2 linked regions of the Homo sapiens genome follow. The protein of the gene in region 1 interacts with the protein of each later gene in a biochemical or structural test. Each region holds a gene or a part of one and is shown on either strand. Other genes may lie near its edges.

What was found.
Region 2: the proteins of FAM184A (region 1) and LRRK1 form a complex in vitro, tested with the Homo sapiens proteins (one large-scale study listed by BioGRID).

What each region holds. Positions count from the first base shown.
Region 1 is NC_000006.12:119,019,366-119,023,179, forward strand, and holds part of FAM184A (protein FAM184A), read right to left. Parts: intron 3,716-3,814; coding exon 3,580-3,715; intron 795-3,579; coding exon 613-794; intron 1-612.
Region 2 is NC_000015.10:101,048,056-101,051,869, forward strand, and holds part of LRRK1 (leucine-rich repeat serine/threonine-protein kinase 1), read left to right. Parts: intron 1-438; coding exon 439-602; intron 603-1,037; exon of another isoform or gene 1,038-1,588; coding exon 1,589-1,728; intron 1,729-2,578; exon of another isoform or gene 2,579-3,655; coding exon 3,656-3,814.

The sequences.
Region 1 (3,814 bases):
GAGGACTGCACCAGGTTAAGGAATGAATGGAAGTAAGTAAAGAGCAAAGAGAATAGATATTTTCAAAATACTTAGACGTTGAGGGAAAGAGAAAGAAAAGTATGTCCAAAACTCCCACTTGGTATTGTGGGCATCTGAAAAACTGGAATACATATTCAGCAATTACTCTATAAATGATGTTTCACTTGTTAAACTAGAAATTCAATTATCTTGGTATACATTTTCAGAGCTTGAAGCTTGTCATATTTTCAGTTCTACAGAAATTTCCTACATGGATATGCAGTAATATATTTCATTAATAGAAAACGAATAATGATTATAAGTATACACTCCACTGAAATAAGAGTTTATTCAATTTCTGGCTTGAAATAGGTTGAAATGTCTTAAAGTTTTTATATTATATAGATTGTTACCCACATATTTTGAACATACATACAGCATAGGATAGTCTAGCTATATACCCATTTCCTCAAAATTAGAACCAAAAATAACTACTAAAGTAGGAAATGTATTGTTACTGGGGAGTAGCAAGAAATACTCCAAATACTTCAAATGTGAAAAAGAGAAAAACGGAACTCTTTCGGGGGGAATGGAGTGTCCATTACTTTTTACCTTCTCCAGTTCTAGAATCTGTTGCTTCTGCTCTTCATCCAGACTTTGGGTTTTGCTTCGCAAAAAAGCTCTTTCCTCTTCAAGTTGAGATAATCTCTCATTGACTCTCGATTTTTCTGATTCTAAATCTTTAATTGTAACTTCCTGGGTCATTTGAGTTGCTTGAAGCATTCCAATATGACCTATCCCCCAAAAAGAAAATCCCTTCAATTTAAAAATCAGTTGTACTATGAGATAAACAGTTTACATTTAATAACACAACTGTACTTTATACTTAAGTAAAATAAATGGTCTACATGTACAAATTTTCCTTTTGTTTCTTCACTACATAAAATGGAAATATTTACATGAAAATACTTCTTAGCGCACTAGAATAATTTAAATTAAAACGTCATTTTCACATGATTAATGTTGCTTCCTGCACCTCGTACCGTTTTACTGGTTTTTTTTGTTTTTGTTTTTGTTTTTTTAAGATTGCAAGCTAAACAGGTTGAAGTAGGCGCAACTCCTCAGTAGGCTTCATAAGAAAGTCTCCTGGGAATAAAAGAAGGACGGAGAGGATGCACTGACTGACACTGTGGCGCCAAAATGAGTGATTCGTTCTTTTCTAATTTATTTTCAAATTCTAACATAAAAAGGAAGAAGTTTGTATGTAGGAAACAAAGATGGCAGATAGCAGTTTGGTTGAAATTGAATTTGTTTCAGGCAAGAGGCCAGATAAAGACCTAAAGTGGAGCTTGTAGTTCCAGCTACTTGGGAGGTTGAGATGGGAGGATTGTTTGAGCCCAGGAGTTCAAGGTTGCAGTGAGCTATGACTGCACCTGTAACAGCCACTGCACTATGTCCTGCAACATAGCGAGACCTCATCTCCAAATAAAAACAACCAACCAACCAACAACTAAGGTGATGTAAGACACAGATAAAGACAGCAAGGTTATGAAAGAATCTCTTAAATGACAGCAAAAAGCAGGGAAGGTGGAGAAAAATGAGGAGAGACAGAGAGATGAAAAGTGAGTGAAGAAAAAGGTCTCATAGAAAGGATAGTTTAAGGCAGAGGTTCTCAAAGTACCCAGGACCAGCATCACCAGCATCACCTGGGAACTCTGGTTAGAAATGTGACCCACCCCAGACCTAAAAGTGAATCAGAAACTCTGAGGGTGGGGCCCAGCATCTGTAGTTTCACAAACCCTTCAGGTCACTCCAATGTGCACTAAAGGCTATTAAAAACAACTATTTTAGAGGAAGGAAAATCTGAGATTCACTGATAAGCCAATCAAAATCAAATGAGATCCTCAAAGAACCAGCTCAAACAGCCTTCCTGGGCACACTAAACACTTAGACAAAATATAACTTCAGAACTGACACAAGTCACCCACTTCCTCCAGTAATGGTTGTGAAAAAGCATACCAGCCACTTGAGAAATAGGCAAGTCAGCTTTAGTATGTAAAAATGAACCTTAGTAACAAGCCCTAAGAAATGAACTGCTGTAATTTACAAACTTCAACTAATTTGAGCACTTTAAAATGTGTATTTTTTCAGTGAGACCTCATCTTTAAAAAAGTTAGCCCGTGGCATACCTAGAGTCCCAGCTACTGGGAAGGCTAAGGCAAGAGGATTACTTAAGCCCAGGAGTTTTAGGCTGCAGTGAGCTATGATCAGGCCACTGCACTCAAGCCTGAGCAACAGAACAAGATCCCATCTCTAAAAACTAAATAAATGCTGGCATGGTGGCTCACACCTGAAATCCCAGCACTTTGGGAGGCCAAGGTGGGAGAACTGCTAGAGCCCAGGAGTTTGAGGTCACCCTAGGCAACATGGCAAGACCCCGTCTTTACAAAAAATTAAAAAATTAGCCAGCCAAGGTGGTGCATGCCTGTGGTCCCAGCTACTCAGGAAGCTGAAGTGGGAGGATCACTTGAGCCCAGGAAGTCCAGGCTACAGTGAGTTGTGTTCATGCCACTGCACTCCAGTCTAGGTGACAGAACAAGACCTTGTCTCAAAAAATAAAATAAAATAAAATGTATATTTTTAAAGGACAACACCTCTTGAAAAGTGTGCTTCATTTTTCGTTCTTTCTTTTTTTTTTTTTTTTTTTTTTTTTGATACAGCCTTGCTCTGTTGCTCAGGCTGAAGTGCACTGGCGCAATCTCGGCTCACTGCAACCTCTGCCACCAGGTTCAAGTAATTCTCATGCCTCAGCCTCCTTAGTAGCTGGAATTACAAGTGTGTACCACCATGCCCAGCTAATTTTTGTTATTTTTAGTAGAGATGTGGTTTCACCTCGTTGGTCAGGCTGGTCTCAAACCTCTGGCCACAAGTGATCTGCCCACTTTGGCCTCCCAAAGTGCTGAGATTATAGGTGTAAGCCACCATGCCCAGCCCGTTTTTCTTTTAGTGACTACTTTATTGGTATTTTACCTGCTATTGGTATTTTTCCTCACAAAGGAAAACTCTCAAGTTTTCTATAAAAATATATTCCTAAAAATAAAAAATATTTGTGTATCTTATAAGTAATTAGTAACATATTGAGTCCTTTAACTTATTTACAGTCTAAATAGTTTTAAAATGTTAGAAGAAAAAATAAATGCTACCTTAAATTAACATTTAAGTGTTGGGGCCGAGCGTGGTGGCTCATGCCTGTAATCCCAGCACTTTGGGAGGCTGAGGCAGGGAGACTGCCTGAGCTCAGGAGTTCGAGACCAGCCTGGGCAACACGGTGAAACTCCATCTCTACTAAAAATACAAAAAAATTAGCCAAGCATGGTGGCGGGCACCTGTAGTCCCAGCTACTCAGGAAGCTGAGGCAGGAGAATTGCTTGAACCCAGGAGGCAGAGGTTGCAATGAGCCGAGATTGAGCCACTGCACTCCCGTCTGGGCGACAGAGCAAGACTCTGTCTCCAAAAAAATAAATAAATAAAGTGTTGATTTTAGCTAAGCATTACATCAAAAACTGTGGTCACACATACTAGCTTTGAGGACAAGATCTGAAGCTTGCTGTTGTAAACGTTCTCTGGCAGCTGCTAGCTCACTTTCCACTTCTTTGTGCTTGCTTAATAGGGCCATTTCTCCCTCCTTGGCATCATCAAGCTGTTTTTGAAGAACCTAAGAAAGATTAAATAGCCATTGTTAAAATGCAGGAATAATACTAAGCTAAATAATTCATTTAAATTATAAGGGTCAGCTTTCTCTTATTCAGAAGTC
Region 2 (3,814 bases), on another chromosome or scaffold:
ATCCAATATGGCTTCAGCTGTTTTTCACAAACATATGGAGATAGAAAAAAAAAAAATCCTGGAATAATATATACCAAAATCTGAATGATCTCTCTGCTTGGTGTTAAATTGGTGTTTTGTTTTCCCTCTTACATTTTTCTGTATTTTCTACATTTTCTAATATGAATTTTTGCTTGTAAAGTCAGAAAGGGAAAAAAATTTTAAAGGAAAGCCTATTTTTCAATTCTTTGGAAAAACTGTGTTTCCGGAATTCCCTGGAGACCCCGTCAGCTAATGTAACGTTCAATTTGGCAGCAGGGATGAGCAGCGTGGGAGGAGAGGGTGGGAAAGATGGGGGACATTTATCAAGATGGGGCCCAGCCCGGCCTCTGCAGAGCTCTGCCCAGGGCCAGCGAGGAGCCCAGAATACTTAAGCAGGGTCTTTTCTCTGTCTTTCAGCTTTTTGAAAACAAGAAGAATACTAAAAGCAGGAACAGGAAAGTCACCATTTACAGTTTTACAGGAAACCAGAGAAATCGCTGTAGCACATTCAGAGTGAAAAGAAATCAGACCATCTATTGGCAGGAAGGGCTCCTGGTCACTTTTGATGGGGGCTACCTCAGGTAGGAACACCTGGAAGCCCACCTGCCAGGTCAGCAGGTGCCACAGCAGCCACCGCGGGGCCACGTCAGCAGGATGCCTCATCCTCTTGGTGTCCAGAATTTTGCTCGTGAGAGCGGCTCGTCATGGCAGCTTGCTAGAAATGTGAGGCCCTCCCACGAGTGTCCCAGAGGCTCCGGTCTCCTCACCCCTGCTGAGCCCCCCTTGCAGGACGGGAAAGGCAAAGGCAGATGTGGCGGCCACAGCTGAGGACTTGAGGGACGTGGCGGCCATTGAGCTCAGGAGAGCCTCAGGCACTTCCCATGGTTATTCAGGTCACCATGGTGACCTTGCAGCCATCCTGCCCGTCCCCTTGTTCTGTGAGAAGCCAGGCTGGGGACAGGGGATGCTGAGACTCCTCAGCCCCCATCTCCACTGCCCATAACCAGACACGGAACTCAGCTCCCTGTGCCATTTATTCTTGGTTTTTTGAGAGCGGTAGACCTAAAGTCAGCCCAACAGGTTTAACGAATGATAAACACCCAAGATTATTTTAATGTTTACAATGAACTTTGCAAAATATTCTTCAGCTCTGTGAGAGGAGAAGAAGGGAAAAGGGGAGGTAACTTTACAGAGGGCTTGATTGGCACCTGCCTCTTCCGCATAGATGTTCTCACTTAAGGCCCAGGGTTGCTGCTGGACAGATGAGCATACTGAGGTTCAGGGAGGTCTGGGAACTTCCTTAGGGCCTCACCTGAGGGTCAGCTCCCAGGCTGAGCGTCCCTGACTGCAATCTTCCTCGTGCCTCCTTCACCAGGCCAGGTCCGGGGCAAGAACAAGGCAGGGCCACGCACACGTACATACAGGGAGGAGTCCCCCATCGGTCCTGCAGGGCACAGAGTCTCTCCAGGTCCCCGGGGGTTGGTTCCTGTCCCTGGGGGTAGGGATATCATCCCAGGGTCCCCCAGAGCCAGATCGCAATGGGCTCCTTTTGGTCTCTGGATTGCAGTGTGGAATCTTCCGACGTGAACTGGAAAAAGAAGAAAAGCGGAGGAATGAAAATTGTTTGCCAATCAGAAGTGAGGGACTTCTCAGCCATGGCTTTCATCACGGACCACGTCAATTCCTTGATTGATCAGTGGTTTCCCGGTAAGAGGAGATGCTAGAAGCAAGCCCTCATTCATGCTAATATTTCTTATGAATCAGGGTGGGGCTGCTGCTTTCGGGGTGGACAAAAATCCCACTGGGATTCAGCCCAAGAAAACTAGGGGGTCTTAACAGCACTTTGGTGGGAGTCCTGGCCCCCGAGAAGTCCAGCTCTGTCACTGGGGGGAGTCCCACGGGGAGGACTGGGCTCGGACACCACTGGGAATGTGCAGGGAAGCGGCCTGCCAGCTGCCCACAGGCGTGGCAAGAAAGATGACACTGGTACCACGAGTGGTCCACGGAGATGCTCAGTGTGAGCTCACACGTGTCTTGTTTTCATAGTGAGGACTGTGTGGCTGAAATTGCAGGGGAGCCGGCAGATGGAAATTTATCCCCTGCGCAGGGGCAGGGATGGAGGGGAGCCGTGGCAGCCAAGGGGCCTTGCTCTCCTCCCCTGCCACCCCACCCATCCCGGCGGTGATCAAACCACTAACACCGCCCTTCTCAGACCCTTTGGATCTGTTTCTTCATTGATAGTTCACCCAAAAAAAGTACTCTTTGAGTGAAGTTCCTGAGGCCTCCTGTTTGTTTTGCTCCTGGGGTGGAGACGACTCCCAGAGCAGCCTGCCAGGGGGAGGCCATCTGGGGTTTAATGGGGCAAGCAGCTGTGGGAGGGGCTGCCCTGAGAGCTTCAGCCCTGAACGCTGGAGGCCAAGCAGCTGTGGGACAGGCTGCCCGAGAGCCTCAGCCCCTGAACGCTGGAGGCCAAGCAGCTGTGGGAGAGCGGGTTTGGAATTCCAGTGCCACCCCTGCAAGCCTCGGCTGGTCCCCCGGCCTCCTGGGCCGGCCTCACCTGCATGCAATGCCTGCATCCCAGACAGCATCAGGGAAGGTGGCTAAGAGGCAGTGGCAGAATGCACTCAGGATACACATTCCAGATCCCAGGGTCTGGTCTCTGTCAGGGTTGGGGTCCTTCACACTGTTGGCAGGAAGGGTGACCTACAAGGAAAAAAGGCTTAGAAAGGAGCCCTCGGAGAAGTCAGCTGGGTGTGCGTGTCATGGTGATTTGGGAGGCACTTGGCTGTCTAAGGGGGCCCTTAGGCCCATGTGAACCCTTCTGGGCACTTTGCAGCTCCCCACCAGCCAGTGTTCCCCACACAGCAGGTGCTGGGCAGTTTGACAGGTGGGTCCCTTAGACAGTCACCTGAGATGGAAAGGGCTCTGGTGAGCACCTGAGACAGATCGCCTGGAGCCAGCATCCCCAGCCAGGGGCCCCTCCCAACGGGATGCCTTACACATGGACCTGCAGATATCAGATGTGCCTGGAAAGTTCTAGGCATCCACCTCCTACCTTGCATGAAGCAGGCAGTTGGCCGGCCCTGAGGGCACCTCCACAGGGCATCTTGGAGGGTGTTTCTCTGCACCTCCTCTCAGAGGCGTGGGGGAATCCCGTGTCCGGTGACTGAGTTTCGTCTATGATAATTTGCACTCATTTCTGCCCCTGCATTGCCCTTCATGGACATTGTAAACCTGATGTTTCTAATTGTAAGAAGGGTGCCTTCCCCACTGCCGTGATGGTTGGAGGATAGCTCACACCTAGTCTGCGATGACCTGTTAGGGCCCAGTCATGCAGGAGGGATCCCCCCACTCCTCTCAGGCCCCCCAGCCAGCCTGCTCAGTGTCCCGACCACTGGACAGTTCTCGGAAGCATCCTGAACCCTCCCTGGACACATCTTTCAGGACAAACAATTGCGCTCTCCAAAAAGGCACCCGAATGTGGCAGTGGGTTTCAGCCTGTCTCTTGGGTACAGGCCAGGACAGGCAGCTCCCCTGCTGCGAAGGCCTCAGGGCCTGGGGTGCAGAGTGCTGCTCGGGGGGCCCTCCTGCACCACCTTCTTGTGAAGCTGTCTCCTGCTCTGTCCTTATTTAGCCCTGACAGCCACAGAGAGCGACGGGACGCCACTCATGGAGCAGTACGTGCCCTGCCCGGTCTGCGAGACAGCCTGGGCCCAGCACACGGACCCCAGTGAGAAATCAGAGGATGTGCAGTACTTCGACATGGAAGACTGTGTCCTGACGGCCATCGAGC